Regions from separate parts of the Homo sapiens genome. Here all the other regions are linked to region 2. The links come from fine-mapping of genetic effects on gene expression. A gene starts in region 2. Each other region holds a variant in brackets. All regions are shown on one strand. Distances are from middle to middle.

What was found. PIP is the estimated chance that this variant, and not a neighbour inherited with it, causes the effect.
Region 1: its variant is fine-mapped to the expression of NEMP1 in ovary (GTEx, PIP above 0.99). The same link has a PIP of 0.9 or more in CD4 T cells and hippocampus.
Region 3: its variant is fine-mapped to the expression of NEMP1 in blood mononuclear cells (TOPMed, PIP above 0.99).

What each region holds. Positions count from the first base shown.
Region 1 is chr12:56,984,141-56,994,319 of GRCh38, forward strand. LOC124902945 (a long non-coding RNA gene) reads right to left here. Exons shown (of 4, transcript XR_007063333.1): 2 at 9,249-9,414. It also overlaps the pseudogene LOC390332. Among named protein-coding and RNA genes, the nearest start is that of ACKR5, 5.3 kb to the right of the region's middle. RefSeq lists a cis regulatory region at 7,014-7,828. The variant G/A (reference allele first, on the strand shown) is at 6,202.
Region 2 is chr12:57,073,846-57,084,024 of GRCh38, forward strand. NEMP1 (nuclear envelope integral membrane protein 1) reads right to left here and starts at 4,946. Exons shown (of 9, transcript NM_001130963.2): 1 at 4,774-4,946. The coding sequence starts at 4,900. RefSeq lists enhancers at 4,501-4,750, 4,871-4,920.
Region 3 is chr12:57,111,088-57,121,266 of GRCh38, forward strand. It overlaps STAT6 (signal transducer and activator of transcription 6), which reads right to left and starts at 275. Exons shown (of 22, transcript NM_003153.5): 1 at 42-275. LOC124902946 (a long non-coding RNA gene) reads left to right here. Exons shown (of 2, transcript XR_007063334.1): 1 at 1-754; 2 at 870-1,792. RefSeq lists enhancers at 1-348, 349-1,294, 7,862-8,051 and a silencer at 1,334-1,493. The variant C/T (reference allele first, on the strand shown) is at 5,451.

The sequences.
Region 1 (10,179 bases), 90 kb before region 2:
AGACAGGAATGGGCTAAGACAGAGAAACCAAGGGGAAAGGACAGAAGAGAAAAAGAAAAAGGAAAGAATAAGAAAAACACATGAGTAATTACTTTCTGCATCCTGTTTAGGAGAGATACACTTAAATCCTAAGACTAGGGGAAGTTAGAGAGCAGGCCTGCACTGGGCATCAGGGGACAAGCTGTGCTACAACCTGCATCAATGTCAAGGCAATATCTGTCCTGGAAGAAAAGGTCACCTTGTGTACCTGGGAATCCCAAAGCTCACTGTGGACTGAATGGCCAGAGCAGGAGGGGAGGAGGGAAAGAGGTCTCATGCCACACAGGTGTCCAGACTGCACTCTCTGCCCCAGGAAGTACCACCTTTTCCTCCCACCATCTCATAAGGCCACCTCTGCCCTATCCCCATAGGGTCCAGCAAGCTTTGGGGAAGACTCTACAGAAGACATAGGGGAGCAAACTAATAGCATGAAAGATCTGGAGTAGTCAGAGCTACAGAACTACGGACTCCAGGCCAGCAGGGGCAGGGGTGTGAGTGGGTGAGGGCTGGGGGGTACAGGAGACGGAGACTGACCCTAGGAATATTGGAAAAACAATAAGGCCTGCAATGGTGGCCCTTCCCCTACTCAGAAACCTTTCCTGGACTTGAAGGAATGAGGATTCTTTGATTCAATAGTTGTACTTTTCTTGAATAGCACTGCTAAGCCTGTCAACAAACCTTGGTAGAGAATCGCTACTGAGATGTTATTTATGCCAGGAAAAGTGGGTAACAAACTTCGGCATTCAACAATATAGAATCCCTTTAACAAATTATGGCCTCTCCACATGCTGGAATATGGAGACCTTGATTGTTATGTTGGGGAAGAAACTTGATGATGAAAATGCTGACCCCAGAATGTGTAAAGTAGAGGGAAATTAACCCTGGAGGCTGGGATTAGGGGGAATGTTGTTTCACTCTCATCCTCTTCTATGATTTCTCCAATGAGAAATCCTATCTTATCCTCCTATCTATCCAATCTTATCCTCTTCTATAATTTCTTCATGTTTTCCATTTACAATCAGAACAAAGCAATCAATGATCTCCCTTTCCCCAAAAGGAACAGGATTCATCACTCGGTGTTTGATGTGAAGTCCCTTCAGCTCTCCAAGCCCCAGTGTCCTCGTGAATCAAGCGGAGATCATCTTAAAGCCCTCAACAGGGACAAGTGTGAAGGAACCAGTAAGAGAATGCTGAGATCAGAAGCCTGGATCCTGCCCAGCCCCATCCCCGATGGTCTCATGCCAACCGTCAGGACCCAACGTTATCCAGAGACTGGGCTCTAACCACAGCCTGGACTCCTCTAACCCTGGGCCCAGCCACAACCACTCTAGGACTTCTGCTTTGGAAAACAGAAAGCTCAAGCCCCCGAAAATAAAAGTCCTGGAAATGTTCCCAGTTAGCAGACACTAGGTCTCCCCTAGTGACACAGAGAGAAGAGAAACAAACAGGCACTAGGAGGGATTGAGGTGGTCCCTCTGTCCCCCACACACTCCTTCACCCACTGGGCAGCTGCAGCAATGCTCTCTGTCTTGGTGATGTCCATGGTCACCGTCTCCAGCCTGTCTGAAGTCTGGCCCCTCAGCTGCTTGGTCCCCTTCTCTGTCCTACATGCAGCTCCCGCAAGCCTGTGCATTCAGTTGTCTGGCCAGTAGCTTCCTGAAGCGTGAGTCACAGCTCATGATGAACACGTACTTGTCTCTCAGGTGACTCACCACCTGCCTCTCCCAGTACCAGTGCAGAAGGTAGTATAGGCCCAGGAGGACCGCCAGGTAGAGCCACATGGCTTTGCAGAGGACAGACCCAGACGGGCTGGGGTGAAGTGAGAGTCTGGCCTCTGTTCAGACAGGAGGACTTAAGAACACAGAGGGCTGAGGTAGGCAGGGAAGCCCTCAGGCATTTTGGCAGAAAGTCCTCACTTTCCTCTCTGATCACTGTCTTTCTGCACCATTTTTTATCCTGGCTTCATCTCTCTGCTCTTTCAACTGCCTTTGCAGGTGTTCATGCATGCAACTGCAAACCCCAAGCTCTGCCCAGTGAGTAGTTATCACTACTCAGCAATGCTTCCCTAGTCCACCAATGCCTCTCTGCCTTGCTGTGCCTACTCAGGTGTCCACACAGGGGCCCACACACACACACCATGAAACACACCACTCTGATCTACAAACAAGGGTCAGAACTTGTCTCTACATATCTTGTGATATGGTTTGGATATTTGTGCCACCAAAATTGCATGTTGAAATGCGTTCCCCAATATTGGAGGCAGGAGCTGGTGGGAGGTGTTGGGTCATGGTAGTGGATCCCTCATGGCTTGGTGCTGTCCTGGAGACACTGGAATGAGTTGTGATGGGATCTGGTTGTTTAAAAGTGTGGCACCTCCCCAGCTCTCTCTTTCTTGCTCCCACTTGCCATGTGACAAATCAGCTCCCCCTTTGACTTCTGCAGTGATTATAAGCTTCCTGATGCCTCACCAGGAGCCAAGCAGATGCATGCTTGTACAGCCTGCAGAACCATGAGCCAATTAAACCTGTTTTCTTTATAAATTACCCAGTCTCAGGTATTTATTATAGCAACACAAGAACGGCCTAACACACATTGTATACCAACACTCCTGGACCATGGTCTCCCAGAAAACAGACTTTACTGGGAAGCTACACATGGTTTCCAGGCACATTCAGTGGAAATCCTGCTCTGAGCCTGAGTTTCCTCATCCCACCCAGCATCCAGAATCAATCACTCCCCAGAAAAGTAGGGCACGATCAGGCTCTCTAGGATGAGAAGGAGAAGGCAAAAAAGTGAACAAGAGCAAGTCCCCTCCTGCTACAGTAGTTTTCTGGGGCAGAAAGATGTGGAACACCCACAGGGAGAGTCCAACCTCACAGGTAAAGAAAGGGGAAAGAAGGGAATGGAGCCTTGGAACCCACAGGAAGGAAGTACCCAGGGCTGCTGGGAAGGGGAATGGAATGACTTATGCAGGTGTCACAGGGCTCACCTGCTCACCTCCTGATATGCCCTGGGTGCTGGCTCCACTGCCCTCTGCCCTCCCCTGTCAGGGCCCACATCCAGGATCTGGACCCCTCAGACACTGAGAGGCTAAAAACATTGCTCATTTGAACAAGGACAATGAGGATGGTGGTCCAAAACCTTGCCCAAGCAGGGAAGGATATGAACCCTAGTAACTGTAAAGGTATTACTTCAGTTTGTATCAGGGTGTTGATGGACAGGAGGGATCTCCTTCTCAGGAGACTACAGAAAGGGGTACAGACTGGACCTCTGCTGTCCATGGAGGGTCCCTCGGTGTGAGGTCGAGGAAACTATTTCATAACTGGTGGGCAGGATGTAGAGGGGCAGGGAGCTGGGGGAGTAGGTGTGGGACAGAATAATCCAGGGTTTATTTGCACTGGGCCTCTCTCCCACTGTCCATGTTTGCCCAATTTCTGTCCCCTAATTGAAGGAAGAAGTGGAGATGGACTGGGAGGGGGAAGGAGAGGTTTCCTGCAGAAACCAGAGGCTAGCAAAGAGCCGCGCGCCCCCTGGTGGTTCTTCTCTAGCCCTGCAGTCACGACGTGGGCATCGGCCTGGGATCAGCCAAGGCTCTTCAGCTCATCCCAATGGCCACTCTCTCCAGCATCGGGGAGCCCCCATATCTCCCTGCACGGATCCTCCAAGAAGGAGGGAAACAGCAAGACTGCTGGCTGGTAAGAGACTGGACTACTGTTAATTAAGCAACATGGATGGTGCCTTGAGTGTGCTGCATACTAGAGGTTTGACAGACTCGGAGCCCCTTGAGGGCTCCGAGACTGAGTCCAGTCATTTTTGTATTTCCAGCCCCGGCAGTGCTAGCTTCTAGCAGAGATGAAGGAATGTTGAGGTAGCTGACACTGCAACATCTGGCTTCGCTTTCCATTTTCATCACTATTTCTTACATCATGCGACAATATGAGATTTCCTAAAGCCTCCATTTTTCTCATCTTTATAACGAGGGAGGAGAATCAAGATGACTTTGTCAAGTCCTCCCATCTCCAATTTCAGGGAGTCTAAGAATCCATATGCCTTTATTAAAATGGTGAAAACTTAGAAAGATGGGGTCTTGGGAAGCACTGGAGAATTTCTGACCAGCATACATTAGGTGCTCAACAAAAGTTAACAGAAACGGAAGAAATCTGGAACCAACAAGAGACTTACCACATCTACAGAGAGGCTGGGGGAGGGGTGCAGATCAGGAGATGGGAGAGTGAGGGAGAAACAGAAGCTGGGAGAGATAGGAGACCAAAGGAAGGGGGAAGGGTGGCGGCATGCGGGGAGGCTGCTAGTGCTGTAGGCGGCAGAGGGATATTAATAGTACCTGGGGCCCTTCCAGTCTCTTATCAGTCTTTTCAAGCTTCCTCTTCCTTAGACTGATGTCACACCCTCCCTTCTCACACTTGGGAAATCACAGAGGAAACAGTTGTCCTTCATCTAGTGAAAGATAGGGAATGGGAAGCAAAGACATTCACTTTCCCCTTTTCAAATCCCTCCGAGATCATCCTACAAATCCCTCAGCCTTCATGAAGGAGACACCTCCTTCCTCATGCAAGAAATTTCCTAGAATTCCCAGGGCTGAGTCAGCTCCACACAAGTGGATACCCAACATTGCTGTTTTTATCCTGACCCCAGTCTAGCAGAAGCTCTCCAAGGGTCATTTTTTTTTAAAGCTTTTGGACATCATGGGCCCCTTCGAGAATCTAAGGAAGGTTATAAGCCCCCCACATAACACAACAATCAAAAACTTGCTTATACTTTTCATACAGTTCACACCTAAAACCATTAGCTGCATGGAATCCAGCTCAAGAATCCTTGTAATATGGGCTTATTGACCTACTAGCTGTGTGACTGGGGCAAGTTATTTAAAGTTTCTGTGCTTCAGTTTCCTTGTCGATGGTAGTACCCACTCCATGAAGTTGTTATGAGGATTAAATGAGGTGATATGGATAAAGCCCCTTACAACTGTGTCTAGCCAATGGTGCGTATTCAATAAACATCAGCTGTTACTATTACTACATTTCTCTGTGGTAATTCATAGTGACATTTGGGAATGTTCCCACCCTTCTATGTAAAAAACACAACCCAAGACAGCCAAATAAAAGAGGAGGCTCATGTTGATCTAATTCAGAGAGGAAAAAAATGGCTGGTGGTAATAGGACTAGAGAGGTCTCTCAGTGTCAATTCCACAAGATGGGATTCCTTTTTCCTTATCCCCATGAAGTGGAAAAGGAGCATGCTTGTATATATTATCTCATGTATCCCATATAATAACCTGTAAGGGAAGCATCATTATCCTCACTTTACATATTAAGAAACTGACATTAAACTCCTATCTCTCACCAGACACAAAAATCAACTCAAGATGGATTAAAGACTTACATATAAGACCCAAAACTATTATTAAATTATTAGAAGAAAATCTAGTATTGCAGGAAAAATCTACTATCTAGTATAAGGAAAAGTCTCCTGGACATTGGACTAGGCAAAGAATTTATGACTAAGATCTCAGAAGCACAGGCAACAAAAACAAAAATAAACAACTGGGACTTAACTAAACTAAAAAGCTCTGCACAACAAAAGAAATAAGCAACAGAATGAACAACCCGCAGAACTGGAGAAAATATTTGTAAACTATTCATCTGACAGGGGAGATATCCAAAATATACAAAGAACTCGAGCAAGAAAAAAAAAAACCCCACAAATAATCCCACTAAAATGTGGGCAAATGACATGAATAGACATTTTTCAAAAGAAGACATTTTTCAAAAGACATTTTTCAAATGGCCAACAGATATATGAAAAAATGCTCAACATCACTAATCATCAGAGGAATGCAAATAAAAACCATGACGCGATATCATCGTACCCCAGTCAGAATGGCTATTATTAAAAAGATAAAAAAAAAAACAGATGTTGGCAAGAATGTGGAGCACAGAGAACTCTTAGACATTGCTGGTGGGAATGTGAACTAGTACAACTTCTATGGAAAACAGTATGCAGATTTTTCAAAAAACTAAAAGTAGAACTGCCATTCGACCCAGCAATCCCACTACTGGGTATTTACTCAAAGGGGAAGAAATCAGTACATTAAAAAGACACCTGCACTAGTATGTTTATCACAGCCCTATTCACAATAGCAAA[G/A]ACATGGAATCAACCTAAGTGTCCATCAACGAATAAAAGGATAAAGAAAATGTGGTATATATACACAATGGAATACTATTTGGCCATAAAAAGGAATGAAATTATGTCTTTTGCAGCAATGTGGATGGAACTGGAGATCATTATTTTAAGTAAAACAATCGAGGCACAGAAAATCAAATATTGCATGTTCTCACTCATAATGTGAGTGCTAAAAGATGTGTACACATGGATGTGGAGAGTGAAATGGTAAACAGTGAAAACTTGGAAGGAAGAGGGAATGGGAGAGGAGTGGATGATGAGAAATTAGTCAATGGGTACAATGCATGTTATGCTTGTGGTGGATACCCTAAAAGCCCTGGCTTGACCAACATGCAACCTATTCATGTAACAAAACTGCACATGTACCACATCAATCTGTACAAATAAATATTTAAAAACAAAAAACAAAAGAAAAGAAACTGAGATTCAGAAAGGTTAAGTGACCTGCCCAAGATCACACAGCTACCAAGTGGTGGAAAAAAGTGTCAAAAACAGGTCTGACTCAAAAACTGGTGTTATCTCCACAGTGTCTCGTGAAGGGCCGGTGAAGAGGGAAGAACTGAGCAGAGAGAGCCAAGGACAGGGTAGTGGGGCACAGGCTTTGAGGAGCCTGGAAAGCTCCTAATCTGGTACTTCTGGGCAAACCAGATTCCTCTCTAGCTTGGGGAAGCTGGTGGCAGGAGGGCAGAACAACCTCCACGACTAGACTTGGCTTCCTGACTCAGTGGCCTTCTGGAAGTTCACACTGTGGACGCGAGTGCAATTACTGCCAAATCCCTCAGCCTTAACCTGTCCACAAAGCACCTGCCTCCACCCCATAAGCCAGGCACGTGGGTTGATCCCTGGGACAGCCTGCCTCACCCCTTCTGCCAGGGTCCAAGCACAGCCCTTTGCCTAACCTGACCCTGGAAAGTCGTCTGCCTTTATCTCTGCCTCCCAATACCTCCTCCCTGGTACCTTCCTTCCTTTCTGATTGTTGATCGCAAAATCTTGTCTACACTTTTTTGGGGAAAAAAAGTGGGGCGGGGAGGAAAAAGAGTAAATTTCCAGGAATTGTTTCACTGCTGCTGTTTCTGCTGCATAGGGCAAAGCTGCTGGCCTGCTCCTTTTGCCCAGGTTGGCGAGGAGCCTGGCCTCCTGCTCCTCCCTCTTTCTCTTCCTCCCAGTCTCTCTCTTTCCAGCTGCACCCCACCCCCTAAAAAGCCCCACATGAAAACTGCAGAGCTATCACTTATTTCTTCCTGAGGGAGGAGCTTTCCCTCTGAGCCTCTGCCAGAAGGAACCACCATCACTTCCTCTTTCTACAAATACACATTGGGTGACAGGAATAGGTGGGAGAAGGCAGCAGGTAGAGGTGAGGCTGCAGGGGGGATGTCTCCATATGGGAAGGACAATTCAGAGACCCAGGAGACAGGAGCCACTAAAGGGCAGTCTTGTGAGGAACGGAAGTGGTCACAGATGTGGCCATCTGGAGAGGACAAAGACCAGACCAGGGCCTTCCTTGGAGGGTGCTTGATCTAGGACAGGCTTCATTTGCATGGGTCAAAAGCATGTAGTGGGAAGGGGAAATTCTCAGAAGGCTCCTTACTGAAGAAAAATATCAATGGGATAGAAACTAAGACCCTAAAGGGAGAGAATAAGAGCAAAACTAACTGAAAAATCGAAGTAAGCCACATTTCACACTGTCATGGTTCATCATGATGGTTTTTTGTTTTTGTTTTGTTTTGTTTTTTTGAGACAGAGTCTCACTCCACGGCCCAGGCTGGAGTGCAGTGGCGTGATCTCAGCTCACTGCAACCTCCGCCTCCTGGGTTCAAGAGATTCTCCTGCCTAAGCCTACTGTGTAGCTGGGATTACAGGCATGCACCACCACGCCTGGAATTTTTGCATTTTTAGTAGAGACAAGGTTTTACCATGTTGGCCAGGCTGGTCTCGAATTCCTGACCTCAGGTGATACACCTGTCTCAGCCTCCCAAAGTGCCAAGATTACAAGCATGAGCCACCTAGCCTAGCCCATTATTTTTTTTTTTTTTTTTTTTTTTTAGGAGATGGGATCTAGCTCTCTAGATCCCATCACCCAGGCTTCAGTGCAGCAGGGTGATCATGGCTCACTGCAGCCTTGAATTCCTAGTCTCAAGCGATCCTCCCACCTCGGCCTCCCAAATACAGACTGTACCACCACAACTGGCTATTTTATTTTTTGTAGAGATGGGGGTCTCATCTTGTTGCCCAGGCTGGTCTCAAACTCCTGGGCTCAAGCAGTCTTCCCACTTCGGCCTCCCAAAATGCTGGGATTACTGGTGTGAGCTACTGCACCGGCCATGATAGATTTTGTGATCTTGGAGTGATCTGATATGTAAGTGGAAGGTTTAAGAAAACTACAAAACTACAAAATGAAAAATATTCCCTTCCATGGAGATAAATGGTGCTGATGGTTGCACAGCAGTGTAAATGCACTTAGCGCCACTGAATTGTACACTTAAAAATGGTTAACGTGGTAAACCTTACATATATTTTACCATAATAAAAGAATCAGTGAGCAAACTTTTAAAAAATGTTCTCTTTGAGTGGATAAAGAAAATGTGGTGTGTGTGTGTGTATATATATATATATATATATGGGAATATTACTCAGCCATGAAAGGAAATGAAGTACGGATGCATGCTCCAAAGTGAATGAACCTTGAAAACATGCTAAGTGGAAAAAAAAAAACACAGACACTGAATGTCACATATGATATGGTTCCCTTTCTATTAAGTATCCAGAATAGGTAAATCCACAGGGACAGGAAGCAGAAGGTTGGTGGTGGGGGGAATAGGATTGACTGCTTAATGGTTATGGGGTTTTCTTTGCGGGTAATGAAGATGTTTAGCACGTAGACAGAGGTGGTGTTTGCACAATGTGCATGTCTAAATGCCATTAAATCACACATTTTAAAATGGTTAATTTTATGCTATGGGAATTTCACCTCGACTTAATATATACTCAATCCCGTCCAGCCGACACACCTTTGGCTCAGGCCTAGGCCACTCTGCCATCTGCCAAGTGTGGCTTGTGTAACAGACAACTTCTCTGGGCCTCAAAGAGGGTGAAGAAATCCATCCTCCCCACAGGGGTATCTCCAGAATCCAACGAGATGAAGTGAGGTGAAAGCGCTCTGAAGGGCAGGAAGCTCTGCTGACACAAAATGTTTACCCATAACACGTGGCTTAGAGTCCCTTACCCTCTAGCTTGGCGGGAGAGAGAAGTCTGCTCTCCCTACCCCACGCCCCATCCCCTGCTCATCCCCTGCCAGCCACCCACCACACCCTTCACGCAGAGAAGTATAGAGCCACAGGGGGAGGGCGCCATTCTCTCTCTCCCTCCCTACTCAGGAATCTCCCTGAAGCTTTGACAAAGCCCCCTTGACACCCCGCATTCAATCTTATTTTTATTTTTTTTTATTAACTCTGTCACCTAGGCTGGAGTGCAGTGACCTGATCTCAGCTCACTGCAACCTCCGCCTCCTGGGCTCAAGCGATTCTCCTGCCTCAGCCTCTCAAAATGCTGGAATTACAGGCGTGAGCCACCATGCCCAGCCATTCAATCTTTTCTTTCCCAGATTCTCACCTCCAATCACAAGATGAAGGCAGGGAGCTCACAGCCCTGTGAGGGGCTGGGGAGAATGGCAGGGGTGGGCCAGAGTTATTAAAAGCCCAACTGATGTTCAGATTTATTTTGACCCTCCCCTATACCCCCACATCCAATTTCACTCTAGTAGGAATCAAGACAGGGGAGAGAGGGATTCCAAGCTGACTTAGGGAGAGGAAAATACATACATACGTAAAGCATTTGCCACAGGCCCCACCTGAGCTAAGCACTTTCCCTCCCTCAACAGCTCCTTTAATTCTCAAAGCATCCCTTTTAGTAGATAATAGACCCCACTTTGCAGAGGAGAGC
Region 2 (10,179 bases):
TGGTCTTAAACACTAGATATACTTCCTGTCCTATAAAGGAATAAAGTAAGCTAAACTACTCCATCTGTTGATTTTCTCTATCCCTTTCCTGAGTAGAACAGAATTGGCAGGTTTTTTATTTTATTTTTTTATTTTTTTTTTGAGACAGGGTCTGGCTCTGCTGCTCAGGCTGGAGTACAGTAATGTGATCATAGCTCATTGCAGCCTCAAACTCTTGGGCTCAAACAATCCTCCCACTTCAGCCTCCCAAGTAGCCAGGACTACAGGTATACACCACCACACCCAGCTAGTTTTTTTTTTTTTTAAAGAGACAAGGTCTTACTATGTTGCCCAGGCTGGTCTTGAACTCCTGGCCTAAAGCAATCCTCCCACATTGGCCTCCCAAAGCACCCACGCTGACCTCCCAAAGCACTGGGATTACAGATCTGCCACCATGCCCAGCCAGCATTTTTTTTTTTTTTTTTCAGACAGGGTCTCACTCTGTCACCCAGGCTGGAATACAGTGGTGCGATCTTGGCTCACTGCAACCTCTGCCTCCCAGGTTCCAGCGATTCTCCCACCTCAGCCTCCTGAGTAGCTGGCATTACAGGCATGAGCCAACTCAATTGGCTAACTTTTTTTGTGTGTGTGTATTTTTGTAGTAGAGATGGGGTTTCACCATGTTGGCCAGACTGATCTAGAACTCCTGGCCTCAACTGATCCACCCACCTCAGCCTCCCAAAGTGCTGGGATTACAGGCGTAAGCCACCACGCCCAGCCAGCAATATTTTTAATATATAGTACTTTTGGAGGATACTAAAAGATTTCAAGGTTGTTTCCTTCCAGCTGTTTTGTGTCACTTCAAATTTTAACAGCAGGCAATGATTACATGCAGTCCCTCTGATTTACCAAAACAGAAGATTCTCCTCTCAATTTGTATTTAATATCAGCTAATTCAAGATTTAAAAGTGACCACTGTCCAGCCGGGCATGGTGGCTCACACCTGAAATCCCAGCACTTGGGGAGGCCAAGGCAGACGGATCACTTGAGGTCAGGAGTTCAAAACCAGCCTGGCCAACATGGTGAAACCCCGTCTCTACTACAAATACAAAAAAATCAGCTGGGCATGGTGGCGGGCACCTGTAATCGCAGCTTCTTGGGAGGCTGAGGCAGAAGAATCGCTTGAACCTGGGAGGGGAGACTGCAGTGAGCCGAGATCGCGCCTCTGCACTCCAGCCTGGGTGACAGAGCAAGACTACGTCTCAAAAAAATAAATAAGGGGCTGGGCGCCGTGGCTCACACCTGTAATCCCACCACTTTGGGAGGCCGAGGCAGGTGGATCACCAGGTCAGCAGATTGAAACCATCCTGGCTAACAAGGTGAAACCCCATCTCTACTAAAAGCACAAAAAAAATTAGCTGGGTACGGTGGCGGGCGCCTGTAGTCCCAGCTACTTGGGAGGCTGAGGCAGGAGAATGGCATGAACCCGGGAAGTGGAGCTTGCAGTGAGCCAAGATCACACCACTGCACTCCAGCCTGGGCGACAGAGCAAGACTCCATTTCAATATAAATAAATAAATAAATAAATAAATAAATAAATAAATAAATAGTTGGGAGCCAAGATCACACCACTGCACTCCGGCCTGGGCGACAGAGCAAGACTCCATCTCAATATCAATAAATAAATAAATAAATAAATAAATAAATAAATAGTTGGGCCCAGGCGTGGTGGCTCACGCCTGTAGTCCCAGGACTTTGGGAAGCCAAGGTGAGGGGATTGCCTGACCTCAGGAGTTTGAGACCAGCCTGGCCAACATGATGAAACCCCATCTCTACAAAAAAAAAAAGAAAAAAAAATAAGGCCAGGCACGGTGGCTCACACCTGTAATCCCAGCACTTTGGGAGGCTGAGGCGGGCAGATCATTTGAGGTCAGGAGTTTGAGACCAGCCTGGCCAACATGGCGAAATCCCACTCTACTAAAAATACAAAAAAATTACCCGGGCATGGTGGCACACACCTGTAATCCCAGCACTTTGGGAGGCTGAGGCGGGCAGATCACTTGAGGTCAGGAGTTTGAGACCAGCCTGGCCAACATGGCGAAATCCCACTCTACTAAAAATACAAAAAAATTACCCGGGCATGGTGGCACACACCTGTAATCCCAGCTACTCGGGAGGGTGAGGTAGGAGAATCGCTTGAACCTAGGTGGCCGAGATGGCACCACTGCACTCCAGCCTGGGCAACAGAGCAAGACTCCATCTCAAAAAAATAAATAAATAAATAAATAAAAATGTATACACAAAGATGTTCACAAACTTACAACAATGAAAAACTAGAAATACCACAAATATCCAACCAACAGTACAAACCACCAATATCCAACCAAATGTTTAATCCACAACATTAATAATGATTTTTACCAGGCAGATGGCACGTGCCTGTAGTCCCAGCTACTTGGGGAGACCGAGGTGGGAAGTTACAGTGAGCTATGATTGTGCACTGCACTCTAGCCTGGGTGTCACAGCAAAACCACGTCACTAAAAAATAATAAATGAAGGCCAGGCATGGTGGCTCACGCCTGTAATCCCAGTACTTTGGTAGGCTGAGGCGGGCGGAACACCTGAGGTCAGGAGTTCGAGACCAACCTAGCCAACATGGTGAAACCCCATCTCTACTAAAAATACAAAATTAGCTGAGTGTGGCTGGGCGTGGTGGCTCACGCCTGTAATCCCAGCACTTTGGGAGGCTGAGGTGGGCAGATCACGAGGTCAGGAGTTTGAGACCAGCCTGGCCAGCCTGGTGAAACCCCGTCTGTACAAAAAATACAAAAAGTTAGCCAGGCATGGTGGCATGCGCCTATAATCCCAGCTACTCGGGAGGCAGAGGGAGAAGTGCTTGAACTCTGGAGGCTGAGGTTGCAGTGAGCCTAGATAGTGCCATTGCACTCCAGCCTAGGCAACGAGGGCGAAACTCTGTCTCAAAAAAAAAAAAATTAGCCGAGTGTGGTGGCACATGCCTGTAGTCCCAGCTACTTGGGAGGCTGAGATGGGAGAATGGCTTGAAACAGGAACCGAGATTGCACCACTGCACTCCAGCCTGGGCCAGACAGCAAGACTACATTCTGCGGGGCGGGGCGGGCGGGGGGTGGAGAAAAAAAATTAAATGAACATCTGCACATACATTGGAATGTAATACAAGTAAGACAACATTTACAAAGAATTTTAAGGCCGGGTGTGGAGGCTCATGCCTGTAATCCCAGCACTTTGGGAGGCCGAGGCGGGCGGATCACGAGGTCAGGAGATCAAGACCATCCTGGCTAACACGGTGAAACCCCCTCTCTACTAAAAATACAAAAAATTAGCCGGGCGTGGTGGTGGGCGCCTGTAGTCCCAGCTACTCGGGAGGCTGAGGCAGGAGAATGGCGTGAACCTGGGAGGCGGAGCTTGCAGTGAGCCGAGATCTGGCCACTGCACTCCAGCCTGCGCGAAAGAGGGAGACTCTGTTTAAAAAAAAAAAAAAAAAATTAGCCGGGCGTGGTGGCGGGCAAGTGTAATCCCAGCTACTCAGGAGGCTGAGGCAGGAGAATCATTTAAACCCAGGAGGCGGAGGTTGCAGTGAGCTGAGATTGCACCACTGCACTCCAGCCTGGGCAACAAGAGCAAAACTCCATCTCAAACAAACAAACAAACAAAAAAACAAAAAAAGAATTTTAAATTACTTGGGAAAATTATTGTACTACAAAATCAAACGAGAAAACTATCTCTGGTAACGACTGGCAGCCTCCAGGGAAGAGAACTAGAGTACTAACTGGATACAAATTATCAATTCATAAAAAATTAAAAATATGTGGAAAAAGATCAGAAGAAAGTGTGCTAAAATAGATTGCTTCTGAATGGATTAACAGTGTGGTTTCTGCCTGCTTCTTTATACTTAATTGTACCTTGCCAAATCATCTAAAATAAACATGCATTATTTGGCCGGTCACGGTGGCTCACACCTGTAATCCCAGCACTTTGGGAGGGCCAAGGCGGATGGATCACGAGGTCAGGAGTTCGAGACCACCCTGGCCAACATAGTGAAACCCCATTTCTACTAAAAATACAAAAATTAGCCGGGCGCGGTGGCGGGTGCCTGTAATCCCAGCTACTCCGGAGGCTGAAGCAGGAGAATTGCTTGAACCCAGGAGGCGGAGGTTGCAGTGAGCGAGATCGCACCACTGCACTCCAGCCTGAGTGACAGAGCTAGACTCCATCTCGCGGGCCGGGGGCGGTAAGGAATCAAGGTTTTACAAGAGCAGAAGATAGTAGAGATCACTGCATTTCTGTCAACTACATCCGTTCTGCCACCCGTGCCCTGCGTCCTGACAGAGCATACGCTCAGATGGTGTTTGCTGATTTGCCGAATGAATGAGATGGTCCCTTTCCCGCGGCTGCTCTGCCTGCCCAGAATGGTCCCCAGGTTTTCTCGCTTTTAACCAAGAAACTCAAGGCTTCTGCAACGAGACACAGCCCCCAGGACTGCTTCTCAACCAGTCTAGGCCTCCCTTCCTGTCTCCGCCAAAAGGCTTCAGGCTCCTCCCCACTCTGGAAGCTGCCCCAGCCCGCTTCAGGGCCCAGACCCTCAGTCCCGACGCCCACTAGCCTGCCAAGTTTCTTCCACCACACTACGCCGGCGGCCCTCGGTAGAGCCACCGCCCTTCTGCAGAGTAACGGCCCGCGCCCTCGGGACAATCCCTTTTCCAAAAATAACCCCCTCGGCACCTGCCCCCTTGGCAGCTGCTGCCCGGGCGGTACCTGTGCCGTAGACCAAGCAGCCGGAGAGGATCAAGAGTAGCCGCACTGTCCCACCGCCCCCGACTCCCGAGCCCCAGGGCCCGGGACCAACTGCCGGCGAGACCGCCACTTTCATTCCTCCCGCCATGGTTGCCTCAAGCCACCTCCTCCTCACGTGCCTTACCCCAGCAACTAACTCCGAACGGGCAACGACAGCAGCCTATCCTCTACGAAACCCGCCCCTATCAACCAATGGGATGGGCAGGGCTTCGAGCACCCAGCCCTCCAAGGGCCCTATGAGTCCCGCCCCTTAGCAACTGAAGAGAGAGGGCGGGAAAAGCAGCTTTCAGCCTATTGGAAAATGGGTTCTCACCCTAGCAGTGGCGACAGGAAGATCCCACCCCGCTAACAACATGCTTCCGTCTTCAGTTTATTTACAACTGGTGTGATTGATGGTAAGTTTAACCAATAGAAAATCGGAATGGGAGAGGCCTCCTTGACCAAACTCGGTATTTCCATAGAAGCTGTCTGAAGTTCCTTCCGTTTTCTTTCGGTTACTTTTTATCACGACCTTTCTGTTATGAGACGCCTACAATTGAGATCGCTTTATGAGTAGGACCCTGATAGGACGATTTTTAAAGTCGACTGACAAAAGTGTGGTTCTCCAAAGTCCTAAAGGATTTAAAATAGAAGTCACAAAAAAGTGTGTGTCAATATTTTATAAGCATAAACATTAGCTTTTAAAAATGTATTCATAGGATTTTTATTTTTGGAAGTAAAATTAATGTTAGGATTAAGAAAGATTCATTTATTCCTCTTATCATCTTGTGAGACAAATATAATTCTCTCCATTTAAGAAGCCAAAGCCAAGACAGCCACAGGAACCTGCCCAAGATTTCATAGTTCATCTGGTCTGTGATCCCAACCTAAATCCTACTGACTCCAAAGCCGGAGTTATTTATATGGATTAGCTGCTTCCCATTCAATGATTTAACACAGGGCCCAGCAGAGATCCAGGTGTTCAGAAACTGTTAGTAGAAATTGAAACTTTTTTTTTAAGAGGATCTGATGGTGATGGGTAGGAAAACTACAGATGATAGAGCCAAATGAATTGAGGAATTCAAGGAAGGGGGCATCTCCTGGGGAAGGTTCAAGCTTTCAAAACAAGAATTTTTTTTTTTAATGTTTTTAGAGACAGGGTCATTCTCTGACACCCAAGCTGGAGTGCAACAGCACCATCACAGCTCAGTGTAACCTTGAATTCCTGGACTTAAACCATCTTCCCACCTCAGCTTCCTAGATAGGTTGGGCTACAGGGATGCACCACCATGCCCAGCTATTTGTTTGTTTCATTGTTGTTGTTGTTGTTGTTGTTGTTATTGAGACAAGGTCTCCTTCTGTAACCCTTCTGGAATGCAGTGGTGTAACCACAGCTCACTGCAGCCTCGAACTCCCAGGATCAAATGATCCTCCCACTTCAATCTCCCAAGTAGCTGGGACTACAGGCATGAGCCACTATGTCTGGCTTAATTTTTTTTAATTACTTTTTGTAGAGACAATATCTTGCTATGTTGCCCAGGCTGACCTCAAACTCCTGGCCTCAAGTGATTATCCCACCTTGGCCTCCCAAATTACTGAAATTACAGGAGTAAGCTACTGCACCTGGTCTAAAACAAGGACCTTTTTAAAAGTCAAAATGGGCCGGGCATGGTGGCTCAGGTCTGTAATCCTAACACTTTGGGAGTCCGAGGCGGGTGGATCAACTGAGGTCAGGAGTTCGAGACCAGCCTGGCCAACATGGCAAAACCCCGTCTCTACTAAAAATACAAAAATTAGCCAGGCATGGTGGTAGGTGGCTGTAAGCCCAGCTACTCAGGAGGCTGAGGCAGGAGAATCCCTTGAACCCAGGAGGCGGAGGCTGCAGTGAGCCAAGATCGCCCCATTGCACTCCAGACTGGGTGACAGAGCAAGACTCTGTCTCAAAAGAGAAAAAAAAAAAAAGTCAAAATGGGCTGGGCATGGTGGCTCATGCCTGTAATCCCAGCACTTTTGGGAGGTTGAGGTGGGAGGATCACTTGAGGCCAGAAGTTCGAGACCAGCCTGGCCAACACAGCAAAACCCTATCTCTAATAAAAATACAAAAATTAGCCCAGCATGGTGGCAGGTTCCTGTAATCCCAGCTACTTAGGAGTCTGAGACAGAAGAATTGCTTGAGCCCAGGAGGCAGAGGTTGCAGTGAGCCGAGATCATGCCACTTCACTCCAGCCTGGGTGACAGAGCGAGCCTCTCTTGTCTCAAAAAAAAAAAAAAAAAGTCAAAATGGGGCTGAGCTATGGGCAAGAGAAGAGATTTCATTCTCAGAAGGAAAAGTCTAGGCCAACAGTGCTGATATGGTCATCCTGTATTTCACACACACACTCCCTCAGCTGACCTAGGGAAGTCAGCATCAATCATGTTGATACTATGTACCCTTGATAACATGAGATGAAAATGGCATTTTAACTCTGTGGTTTTCCTTCCCAAAACCCATAACACCACTCTAATCTTGAGAAAAACATTAGACAAATTCCAATAGAGGCATCCTACAAAATACCTGACCAGTACTCCTCAAAGCTGTCAAAGTCATCCAAACATCATTATGGGCTTTTTTGTTTTTGTTTTTTGAGACAGAGTTTCACTCTTGTTGAGCAGGCTGGAGTGCAATGGCACAAACTTGGCTCACCGCAACCTCCCCCTCCCAGGTTCAAGCGATTCTCCTGCCTCAGCCTCCCAAGTAGCTGGGATTACAGGTGTGTGCCACCCCGCCCAGCTAATTTCATATTTTTAGTAGAGATGGGGTTTCTCCATGTTGGTCAAGCTGGTCTTGAACTCCCGACCTCAGGTGATTTGCCCGCCTCGGCCTCCCGAAGTGCTGGGATTACAGGCATGAGCCACCATGCCCAGCCCATTATGTTTTTGAGAACTAAACATAATGTGGTGGTCTAGATGGGATCCTGGAACAGAAAAACACATTAGTTTAAAAAAACGAGGCTGGGCACGGTGGCTCATGCCTGTAATCCCAGCACTTTGGGAGGCTGAGGCGGGCGGATCATGAGGTCAGGAGATGGAGACCATCCTGGCTAACATGGTGAAACCCCGTCTCTACTAAAAATAAAAAAAATTAGTCGGGCGTGGTGGCAGGTACCTGTAGTCCCAGCTACTCAGGAGGCTGAGGCAGGAGAGTGGTGTGAACCTGGGAGGCGGAACTTGCAGTGAGCTGAGATCGCTCCACTGCACTCCAGCCTGGGCGACAGAGCAAGACTCCGTCTCAAAAAATAAGAAAACAAAAAAAAACACGGAGGCTGAGCATGGTGGCTCACGCCTGTAATCCCAGCACTTTGGGAGGCCAAGGCGGGCGAATCACGAGATCAGGAGTTCAAGACCAGCCTGGCCACCATAGTGAAACCCCGTCTCTACTAAAAATACAAAAATTAGCTGGGCGTATGGCGGGCACCTGTAAACCCAGCTACTCAGGAGGCTGAGGCAGGAGAATCACTTGAACCTGGGAGGCGGAGGTTGCAGCAGTGAGCCAAGATCAGTGCCACTGCACTCCAGCCCGGTGACAGAGTAAGACTCAGTCTAAACAACAACAACAACAACAAAAACTCAAAGGAAATCTGAATAAACTGTAGACTTTAGTTAATAATAATGTTTCAATACTGTTTCATTAATGGTGCTAAATGTACCATACTAATGTCAGATAATAATTGAGGAAATTGAATGTAGGGTATATAGGAATTCACCATATTATCTTTTCAATTTTTCTGTACATGTAATGTTTCTAAAAATAAAGTTGGCTAGCCTCAGTGGTTCACACCTGTGATCCCAGCACTTTAGGAGACCGGGTCTGAGGATGGCTTGAGCCCAGGAATTCAAGACCAGCCTGGGCAACATAGTAGGACTCTGTCTTTACAAAAATACAAAAATTAGCCAAGTGTGTTGGCACGTGCCTGTAGTCCCAGCTGCTCAGGAGGCTGAGATGGGACGATCACTTGAGTCTGGGAGGTTGAGCCTGCAGTGAGCCATGATCATGCCTCTGCACTCCACCCTGGGTGACAGAGTAAGACCTTGTTGCTAAAAAAATGAATAAATTGGGCAGGTGCAGTGGCTCATGCCTGTAATCCCAATGTCTTGGGAGGCCGAGGCAGGTGGATCACTTGAGCCTAGGAGTTTGAGACCAGCCTGGGCAACATAGTGAAACCCCGTCTCTACAAAGAATACAAAAAAAAAAAAAATTAGCCAGGTGTGGTGGCATGCACCTGTGGTCCCAGCTACTTGGGAGGTTGACGTGGGAGAATCACCTGAGCCTGGGAAGTCAAGACTGCAATGAGCTGTGATTGCACCACTGTGCAGCCTAGGTGACAGAGTGAGACCCTGTCTCAAAATAAATAAATAAAATAAAATAAAGGCTAATATATATGTATAGATATGTATATGTATTTTTTTATGTGTAGGTATATATACACATATATATACACATACTTCATTTTTTTTTATCAGGCCCCATTCTCATCATTCAGAGCTTGCTCTTTGGTTTTCACTAAAGCAAATCCAGGGGAACTAATTTCAGAAGATCACTGACCACTGACTATTAAAATATATAAATGAAGTGTATGGTAATGAGACTGGCTGTCCATAAACACATTACAACTTATCATCCAAATGAGTGCTGTCATTTCAAGATAGTCATTCAAGAAGCTTTTAGCTTTGTTTTAATGAGGACACTGCTCAAAACAACAAGAATCTCCTTCAGAGTCTATAACACACAATGCAATGAATATTCATTATCTGCAGGTGGATTGGATTTATGCAAATAGCCAAAAGAACTCAGGCCAACACTGATGAGTAAATGGGGTGGGAAATCTGGATGGTTAATGTGTTTCAAAATTTTTTGGATTTTTGAAAGATAGTATGGTGCATATACAAAATATAAAGCAACAATCCCAATGCATCAGGACAGCACCCAGTAATCAAACAAATTAATATTTCTGGAATGACACATATGACTTCATACTGTGGTAAGTGAAAGATGGAAAAGTGAAAACTATAAATAACCTTATGTAAGTTTAGGTCAGGTTCTGCCACAAAATAAATTCAGTTCAGATTAGGTTTTATTGTCAAATATGTTATGAAAAAGATTTTGTTTTTGTTTTTGAGACGGAGTTTTGCTTTTATCGCCCAGGCCAGAGTGCAATGGCGTGATCTCAGCTTGCTGCAACTTCTGCTTCCCAGGTTCAAGCGATTCTCATGCCTCCACCTCCCGAGTAGCTGGGATTACAGGCGCCCGCCACCACGCCCAGTTAATTTTTGTTTTCTTCTGTTTTGTTTTGTTTTGTTTTGTTTTGAGACCGAGTCTCACTCTGTCACCCAGGCTGGAGTGCGATGGCG
Region 3 (10,179 bases), 37 kb after region 2:
TCATAGAGGCCCCCGCACCCACCTCGGAGGCAACCCCTCACCTCGGCAACCCCTCTGCTGTCTTCTCCCTTTCTCAGCGGGCACTTCCAGGCCCCATAGGTCTGTAGCTCTGTCCAGCGAGTTCAAGGCTGGCCCTGCTAGCACCTCCCCCCTTCCACCACCACCACCAAAAAGAAAAATAAGATAAAGCACACACATACATACACACACACACACACACACACACACACACTCCTCTCCCGTCCTCCCTCTTCAGTGTAAGCAGTGGCTGCCCCAGCCCGCTGTTTCCGGCTTCTCCTTCTACCCAGGTCCCTCCCTGGAGCTCTGACGACACAGAGAAGAGAAAGTGGGCTGGAGGAGGAAGAGGAAGAAAGTGGGGTGAATATGTGTGCCTCCTGTGCCGAGTGGGGGAACACGTGGGGGATCAGGACTGGGGTCCAGGCCTTGGAGCCAGGCTTGGGGGGAGGCTGACCCCCACTTACTCTGTCCCCCTCAAAAGCATCAGCTTTTCTCCAGAAAGTCACCCAATATCAAACAGAGATTTGCCACCCCTAACTGCCTGGCTCCCAAACTCAAACTCTGCCAAGGGCTGGGGTTTGGACCCACAAGGGACTGGGCTCCCCAGGGCCTCAGGAAAAGTAAATCCCTCTGGACTCTGCGCTCCCTCCAGTGGAGGACCCTAAAAAGCCGCCAGGGAGCTCGATGCCAGCCAACTCCTAGGTCCCCCTCCCTTCCGGCAGGGAACGCCTTAGAGGTCGGTCTCGTGACCACTGACGGGAGGGAGTGGGGGAGGGGAACCCTCAGCTCAGAATTCTGGAAGACTCTAGGAGTCCCTTGGACTGAAGCTGGTCTTTGCTCTCTCCTCACAGGGCACCCCTCCTGAGACTGTGGTGGGAACCAGCACAAGCCGGAGCTGCTGCCTGCAGATTCACAAGGGGCAAGTTTGAATACGAATCTGCTGTGTTCCTATCTGCCAAGTTCCTATATGTTTCTGGGGTAAACACTGAGACACGCCAAGAAACAAACACACACATGCACAACTTCCCTGACCACAAGACTACACACACACACACACACACACACACACACACGTGCAGGCAGGCTCACAAACAGAGCCCATTGCAATCACAACACCACACACACACACACACACACACACACACACACACACACACAGTCTTGCTCAACTTCTGAGTCATCAACATAACTAGTGGAGGGTTCTGCAGTTTTTGCTGGGGGAGGAGCTGGAGGAGACCAAGGGATCCAGAGAGGCCTTTACTCCCGGACACCTGAGAGCCCCGGTGTGTGGAAGAGGTGGTGTCTGAGGGGCGGTGGGAGGAAGTTTCTACTCCCCTCCTCCCTCCCATAGCAGGGGCTGGGCTGAGGGGCCAAAGCTAGGCCTATGCTGCCCCCTGGTGCCTGAATTGATTTCCAGAACCAGCTCCTCCTCCTCCATCCCTTGCTACCCCGCAGGTCTGTACATGAGTGCACGTGTGTGGACCCAGCCAGGCAGCAGAGGGTTTGAACACAGCAAAATATAGCAGTTAAAAGACTGGACTGTGGATACAGGCTGCTTGGGTTCAAATCCTGCTAATGCTGCTAACCACACAACCCTGAGCAATTTACTCTGTGATTCATTCTCGTCATCTGTAAAATGGAGCAAATAAGTCTTAACCCATAATGTGAGAATAAAATGCAGTAAAACATCTGAAGGCTTAGAACAATGCCTGACACACAGTAACTGTCAGGCACTATTTTTATGGTTCATAATAAACCAGGTATGAGGAAAGGAGAAGGGTCTCCATCCTACATAGAAGTCCCCAGATTTGGGGGTCATGTTACTGCCAAAAGGATATTGAGGGTGTATGTGCGTATGTGTTTGCTGTGTCTGCAGGACAGTGAATGGAAGAGAAGGGAGAGCAGGGGTGGAGGTGGCAGGCAGGGACTCTGTCCATTGGCTTGTCCAACAAGCCATGCTAGGATCAAGGTGTGTGCACATACGTGTTCACGGCACACGTGCTTTGTATGTGCTCCCGAGTGCCCACTCTGCCTGCAGACATCCACAGACAGTAGGTGAAGCCAGGTTTCACCATCTAAGGGTGTCAGAGCTACAAGTCCCCAAAGACTTGGAGAGGAGGAGGGAAAAGAGTAAATGTGATCTCTGACTTTGGCTCCTTTTAGGGGGTAGGAAGGCGAGGAGCAAGTACTGGTAGAAAAATAGTATATATTACTCCCTCTGTAACTGACTATACCAATGGGAACACTGTGATGTAAGGGGAAAAAACAGAATTTAGAGGCAAATCTGGCTTGGGTATGACTCCATTTAGGAGGTTCACAATCAGGTGTCAATCCCTCAAATGAGAATAATAGTTATACCTACTTCAACAGAGTCTAGGCTAGGGTAAAGTGCCTAGAGTATGAAATTTAAGGAGATACTCATCTTCAGATTGTACAATTGCAGGGTCTGTCAGACCTTCATTAATGACATCTGCACCTGCATGACTGTGAGGGTGACTGTATCACCCTCCCCTGGACCTTGACATCCCATTGAGTGGTGGTAAAGATTGCACAAGAGAGGCTCACGCCTGTAATCCCAGCACTTTGGGAGGCTGAGGCAGGCAGATCACAAGGTCAGGAGATTGAGACCATCCTGGCCAACATGGTGAAACCCCGTCTCTACTAAAAATACAAAAAATTAGTCGGGCGTGGTGGTGCGCGCCTGTAGTCCCAGCTACTCAGGAGGCTGAGGCAGGGAAATCACTTGAATCTGGAAGGCAGAGATTATAGTGAGCCGAGATCAAGCCACTGCACTCCAGCCTGGTGACAGAACAAGACTCCGTCACACACACACACACACACACACACACACACACACACACACACACGATTGCACAAGATAAAGCGTAAGGAAAAAATAACTTTATGTCTATGTACTGCTGGTTACAACCCAATAGTGAGTCACAAAATCGATTTGGTGAGTGTATCAGTTTGCTAGGGCTGCTGTAACAAAGTACTACATATTGCATGACTTAAACAACAGAAATCTCTCAAGATGCTGGAGGCTAGAAGTCCAAGATCAAGGTTAACCTGAGCAGGATTGATTGATTCCTTCTCAGGGATGTGAAGGAAGGCTCTATTCCAGGCCTCCCTCCTTGGCCATTTTCACGTTCACACACTGTTCTCTTTGTATGCAAGTCAGTCTCCAAGTTTCCCCTTTTTTCAAGGATACCAGTCATATTGCATTAGGCCCCATCCTAATGGCCTCATTTTAACTTAATTACCTCTGTAAAGACCCTATAAGGGGGTCCTTCAAAATAAGGTCACGTCCTGAAGTACTTGAGATTAGGACTTCAAGAGAATTTTTGAGGAACACAACTCAGCCCATAACAGCATCTTGATCAAGCACAATGGCTCACACCTGTAATCCCAATACTCTGGGAGGCTGAGGCAGGAGGATTGCTGGAGGCCAGGAGTTCGAGACCAGCCTGGGCAACATAGCAAGATCCCATCTCTACAAAAAAAATTTAAAACAAAATTAAAAACAAAACATAAAAAAAAACAGTGTCTTGACCTTCACTCTTTGAAACTGAAGTAAAGGCCAGGCGCAGAGGCTCATGCCTGTAATCCTAGCACTTTGGGAGGCCGAGGTGTGCGGATCATCTGAGGTTAGGAGTTCAAGACCAGCCTGGCCAACATGGTGAAGCCCCGTCTCTACTAAAAAATACAAAAAATTATCTGGGCACAGTGGCATGTGCCTGCAATCCCAGCTACCTGGGAAGCTGAAGCAGGAAAATCACTGGAATCCGGGAGGCAGAGGCTGCAGTGAGCTGAGATTACACCCCTGCACTCCAGCCTGGGCAACAGAGTGAGACTCCATCTCAAAAAATAAAAAATAAAGTGAATAAAATTAAAAAATAAAACTGAAGTAGAATAGAACAGTACAGAAAATATCAGAAGGCATCAAGCGAAGTAAGGATAAGTATTGTTTAATTAAACTTTTGTTTCAGCTTTATATATGTATCTGAATTCTTTTTTTTTTTTTTTTATTTGAGATGGAGTCTCCCTCTGTCGCCCAGGCTGGAGTACAGTGGCGGGATCTCGGCTCACTGCAACTTCTGCCTCCTGGGTTCAAGCAATTCTCCTGTCTCAGCTTCCCCAGTAGCTGGGACTACAGGCACATGCCATGACACCCAGCTAATTTTTGTATTTTTAGTAGAGACACCATATTGGTCAGGCTGCTCTCAAACTCTTGGCCTCAGGTGATCCACCCACCTCAGCCTCCCAAAGTGCTGGGATTACAGCCATGAGCCACCACTCCCGGCCCTATATGTATCTGAATTCTAAGTCATGATAAAACATACTTTTTAGTGCTGGTTGTGGGGAAAAAAAAAAAAAGCACAGCCATGCATGGTGGCTCACGCCTGTAATCCCAGCACTTTGGGAGGCCAAGGTGGGCAGATCACCTGAGGTAAGGAGTTCGAGATCAGCTTGGCCAACATGGTGAAACCCCGTCTCTAAAAATACAAAAATTAGCCAGGTGTGGTGGCACTGCCCTGTAGTCCCAGCTACTTGGGAGGCTGAGGCACGAGAATTGCTTAAACCCAGGAGGTGGAGGTTACAGTGAGCCAGGATCACACCACTGCACTCCAGCAACAGAGTGAGGGTTTGTCTCAAAAATAATAATAATAATAATAATAACAGAAGCACAATTTGGGTACTGGTGGCCACTACATATTCCTTTGTATTGCTTTTTAATTATTTTGTGGGTACATCTTTCTTCCTCAACAATAACACAAGTTCAAGGAGGGCAAGGACTCATATCATACTGTACACACTGCTGTGCAGCAGCTAGAAAAAACAACATGCATTCTTGGTGGTAAAGATATGAAGGGCTGCAATTAACTGAGTGTCTCCCATGTACTTGGTGCTGGGCTAAATGTTTTATACATACTCTCCTACGTAAGGACTAAACTGATTGATGGATTGATTGCTGGAGCTCAGTACATTTCACAGACAAGACAGTTCAAGAACACTGAATAGTGGACTGTGATTTGTGGAGGATGAGGGAAAGGAGGAGGAGGTCACAAAAGAATTGTGGGAAGCTGCTGAGGGCCCCTAGCCAGCTCTATCTCCCAGGCCTTCACTATTCTCCTCAAGTTTCCATCCATCTTCATACCAACTCATCATTTAATTAGAAAACACCTGTGCTCAAGGCCCCTCCCTTCTGCCTCTTCAGGCACTTGTTCAATTTATTATCCCCTTCATTCTTCAAATCTCCACCCTCCTGCTCTGTAGTTATGACAGCTCTATACTTTCAGCATAAAGCATGTTCGAATCCTTCTCTCTCTCCTCTCTCTCTCTCTCCTCTCTCTCTCTCTCTCATAGAACAGGGTCTCAATATGTTGTCCAGGCTCTCAAACTCCTGAACTCAAGTGATCTTCCTGCCTCGA[C/T]CTCCCAAAGTTTCGGGATTACAGGCGTGAGCCACCGTGCCCAGCCTGAAATGAATCTTGAAGGGACATAAGAATTATTCAGGCAAAGAACAAGGAAAGCATTAAAGCAGGAAGAAGGTCTAGCATATGCAAAGGCATGGATACCTGTGGGAGCATGGTACCTTCTGGGAATGGGTAGTAATGGGCAATGCGGAGCATTAGAAGATTTAGACAGGTGAGTCATATGATAAGATTTAGTAGAGGGATCAGCCTAGCTGCAATGTGGAGGATGGATTTAAAAGATAAGTTCTGAAGCCAGGAGATCCATTCAGAAGGTTAATAACAACAGAGAGGGAGACGACACAGTTGAAGAGCAGAGGTGAAGCATTGTGGAATGGAGACTGGTTAGGAAGAAAAGTGAAGACATGAGGGGCCAGTGTCAAAGGAAAGAAAGGCAAGAAACTGGAAGTCTCAACAGACTTAAAGACCAGGCTTCCCGGGGGCAAGGGAAAGAAGAGCTGTAAGGCTAGGATGTTGCGGTCAGAATCTAGGGAGTGAGATTTCAGTCCAGCTCTCCTGCAAGGGTGTGATAAAGGTGGTGGCTATGAGAGTGAGTGGCTACAGCAACACAGAGGTAAGTCATTGGAGTCAAAGAGAACAAGGAACCAAGAGGCCAGGGTGTTGGCTGGACTACCTGCCGGAGCACTGAAACCATCTGGGTTTGTGGAAAACTTGAGGTGGACAGGAAGACAGTCAGCTGCTAAAGTCTTCACAGAAGGCCAGGCGTGGTGGCTCATGCCTGTAATCCCAGCACTCTGGGAGGCTGAGGTGGGCAGACTGCTTGAGGCCAGGAGTTTGAGACCAGCCTGGGCAACATGGTGAAATGCCGTCTCTCGAAAAAATACAAAAATTAGCCTGGTGTGGTGGTGCATGCCTATAGTTCCAGCCACTGGGGAGGCTGAGGTGGGAGGATCCCTGAGCCCAGGATGTCAAGGCTGCAGTGAGCCATAATTGCACCACTGCACTCCAGCCTGGGCAACAGAGTGAGAGCCTGTCTCAAAAAAATTAAAATAAAATAAAATAAACAAAGACTTCACGGATAAAGTGACCAGGACATCAGTGGATAACAGCAAAAATAATAACTAACACTTAGTGGGGCTTTATGTGTTACTTCAATTCTTACTCTAAAATTGAAGCACTGTACTTTTTATCCTACAATAATACTATGAGCTAGAACTATGTGCCCACTACAGTAGCTACTAACCACTTGTGGCTATTTCAATTTTAAAATTCAATGCCTCTGATGTATCAGCCACATTTCAAATGTGCAATAGCCATGTATGACTTGTGGCTACTATATTAAAACAGACACGGGGCATTTCCATCATCACAGAAAATTCTATTGGATAGTGCTGATAACCCTCATTTTACAAATGAGGAAACTGGCATGGAAAACTCAGCAACTTGCTCAAGGCTAAGGTGAGAGAGCTGGGATTCAAATCCAGTTAGTTTGGCACCAGAAATGTTGCCCTTAAGCCCTATGTTGCACATCCCAATGGAAGGTGAAATAGTTGGCTCTTAAAGGAAGAGGAATTTGATGTGACTACTGAGGCAAGCACTGGTGGTGCCTATTCAGCAGCCAAGCTTTTCTCCCTTGCTAGCAAAGTCTGGATTTCACACAGGTGTCCCCCTCCTATGTATTCACGGGGTGAATCTAATTGGCATAGCCAATCACAGTATTTCTATTCCCTTGGCCAGTGACCCAATCCTGGCCAATAGGACTTAGGGGGCTTCTGGGAAAGATTTTGTTCTTCTTCAGTGCCATGTTCACTTTTAGGATTGGAATAGCTGCAACCACGTTGCAACTGGGAGGGGAGATACCACCAACCAATGAGGATAAAGTATGAGTGTGAAGAGGTGGAAAACCTTTGATGAATCAACCAGCCCTGGACCTGCTATAAAACTCCTCATTGTTGAGCCTGCTTTAATTGGGTCTTCCATTACTTGCTGCTAAATGCATCCCTAACTAAGACCATGGTGAAGCTATATCGCCACAGGAAATGGAGACTCCAGGGTGGGCTGCCTGCCCATCCTCCCACTACCACCCGCCCTATACACTTGAGAGAATAAGCGATACCTCATTAAAGGAGGAATGTTCTCAAGGAAGGATCAGGTTCCAGACAAGCCAAGAGGGGCCAGGATAATGTGAGCCAGGGGTGGCCCCAGGCTTCAAGCAAGGAGATGGGTGGAGAGCAGTATAACAGTGTTAGGAGGAGGAAGGACTGGACTTAGTGGAGAAGGATGGATGCCAATCAAGGCCTGCCAAGGATGACAGGATGTGAGCAATGGTGGAGTCAGCTGATCTCAAGGCTTCAAATGGAGCCCTCAGGCTGTCAGAGGCTTACTGTGGCCAACCGACCTTTACTTCACAGAAGGACAAGTTAGCCATCCTGGTGAATGGGCAAAGTCAAGCAGCTCTGGATGGAGTCAGCTGTGGTCAGGATTGTGCCTCTGCAAGGAAATCTCAGTTCTCTAATTACTGTCTTGCCTCTCTCCCTTCCCCTGTGCAGCCAAGCATCTTGGGAAAATTATTCATATTCAGTCTTCTCTTCCTTACTTCCTCATTACACTGCCAGCTGGCTGCTGCCCCCACCAGTCATGAAACTGTCCTGGCCCATGTCACATACACCCTCCTAGGGGCCTTGAATGATGGCACATTCCTGTCTTTCTCTTGCTGGGCCTTTCAGCAGTACTCAACACTGTTAGCCATTCTTGAGTAAGTTCTCCCCCAACTACTTTTCATGATTCCTTTCTTGGTCTTCGGCCTACCTCTCTGCGTCCTCCCTCTCAGTCTCCTGTCTTCACGGGACACTCTTTCTGTGTGATCTCATCCACATCTGAGGCTCCACAGCCTGGGCAAGGCTATGTAGTATGGTGATTAAAACCTTGGCCGCTGGCAGACCACCTGTGTTCAAATCTCTGCCCTACCAGGTGGTTGCTTTGTAATACCCAAACTTCTATCAAGATGTGGATCATTACCCTCACCCCAACCCACAGGGGAAGCCACTGTTCTGATTTTTTTTTTTAAGTAGAGTAATATAGGATGTAGTTTTATGTCTGGCTTATTTTACGCAACATGTTTTGAGGTTCATCCATGTTGCTGCATGTATCCATAGTTCTTTCATTTTTCTTGCTGAGTAGTGTCCCATGGTGGATCTATACCACAGTTTGTTTATCCTTTTTCAAATGAAGGATACCTGAGCTATAGCCAGCTTTTGGCTACTGTGAAGAAAACTGCTATGAATATTCTGTGTTCAAGTCTGTGTGTGAACATATGCTTTCATTTCTCTTGGATAAATAACTAGGAATAGAATTGCTGAGTCACAGGGTAGGTGTATGTGTAGTTTTATAAGAAACTGCTACATATTGTTCCAAATTGATAGTACATTTTACATTCCCACTAATGATGTATGAGAGTTCCAGTTGCTCTGTATTCCCACTAACATTTGGTATTGTCAGTTTTTTAAAGTTTAATCATTTTGGTGAGTATTGAGAGGTATCACACTATGGATATAATTTCCTTTTTTTTTTTTTTTTTTTTGAGACGGAGTCTTGCTCTGTCACCCAGGCTGGAGTGCAGTGGCACGATCTCGGCTCACCGCAAGCTCCACCTCCTGGGTTCATGCCATTCTTCTGCCTCAGCCTCCCGAGTAGCTGGGACCACAGGCGCCCGCCACCACGCCCAGCTAATTTTTTGTATTTTTAGTAGAGACAGGGTTTCACCATGTTAGCCAGGATGGTCTAGATCTCTTGACCTTGTGATCCTCCTGCCTCGTCCTCCCAAAGTGCTGGGATTACAGGCGTGAGCCACCGTGCCTGGCATAATTTGCATTTTCTTAATAACTAAAGATGTTGAGTTCTTTTCTTTTTCTTTTTTCTTTTTATTTTTGAGACAGGGTCTCACTCTGTTGCCCAGGCTGGAGCACAGTGGCACAATCACTGCTCACTGCAGCCTCAACCTTCTAGGCTCAAGCAATCCTCCTGCCTCAGCCTTTTGAGTAGCTAGGACTGCAGGAATGCACCTCCATATCTAGATCATTTTTAAATTTTATTTATTTATTTATTTTGAGATGGAGTCTTGCTCTTGTTGCCCAGGCTGGAGTGCAATGGCACAATCTCAGCTCACTGCAACCTCTGCCTCCTGGGTTCAAGTGATTCTCCTGCCTCAACCTCCCAAGTAGCTGGGATTACAGGTGCCCACCACCATGCTCAGCTAATTTTTGTATTTTTAGTAGAGACAGGGTATGGCCACATTGGCCAGGCTGGTCTTGAACTCCTGACCTCGTGATCCGCCCGCCTCGGCCTTCCAAGGTGCTGGGATTACAGGCGTGAGTCACCACGCCCGGACTTTTTGTAGAGATGAGGTCTCGATATATTGCCTAGGCTGGTCTGAAACTGCTGACCTCAAGCGATCCTCCCACCTTGGCCTCCCAAAGTGCTGGGATTACAGGCGTGCACCACTGCACCTAGCCTCGAGTACCTTTCATATGCTTATTGTCCATTCATTGGGTTGTCATTTTATTACTATGTTATAGGAATTTTTAATATATCTCGCATTCCTCTGTCCCTTCTCAGATCAATGTTTTGTCTATCTATTTGGCTTACTTCCACATTTTCATAATAATGTCTTTTTTTTTTGAGTCAGGGTCTCACTGTCACTCAGGCTGGAGTGCAGTGGCACAATCAACTC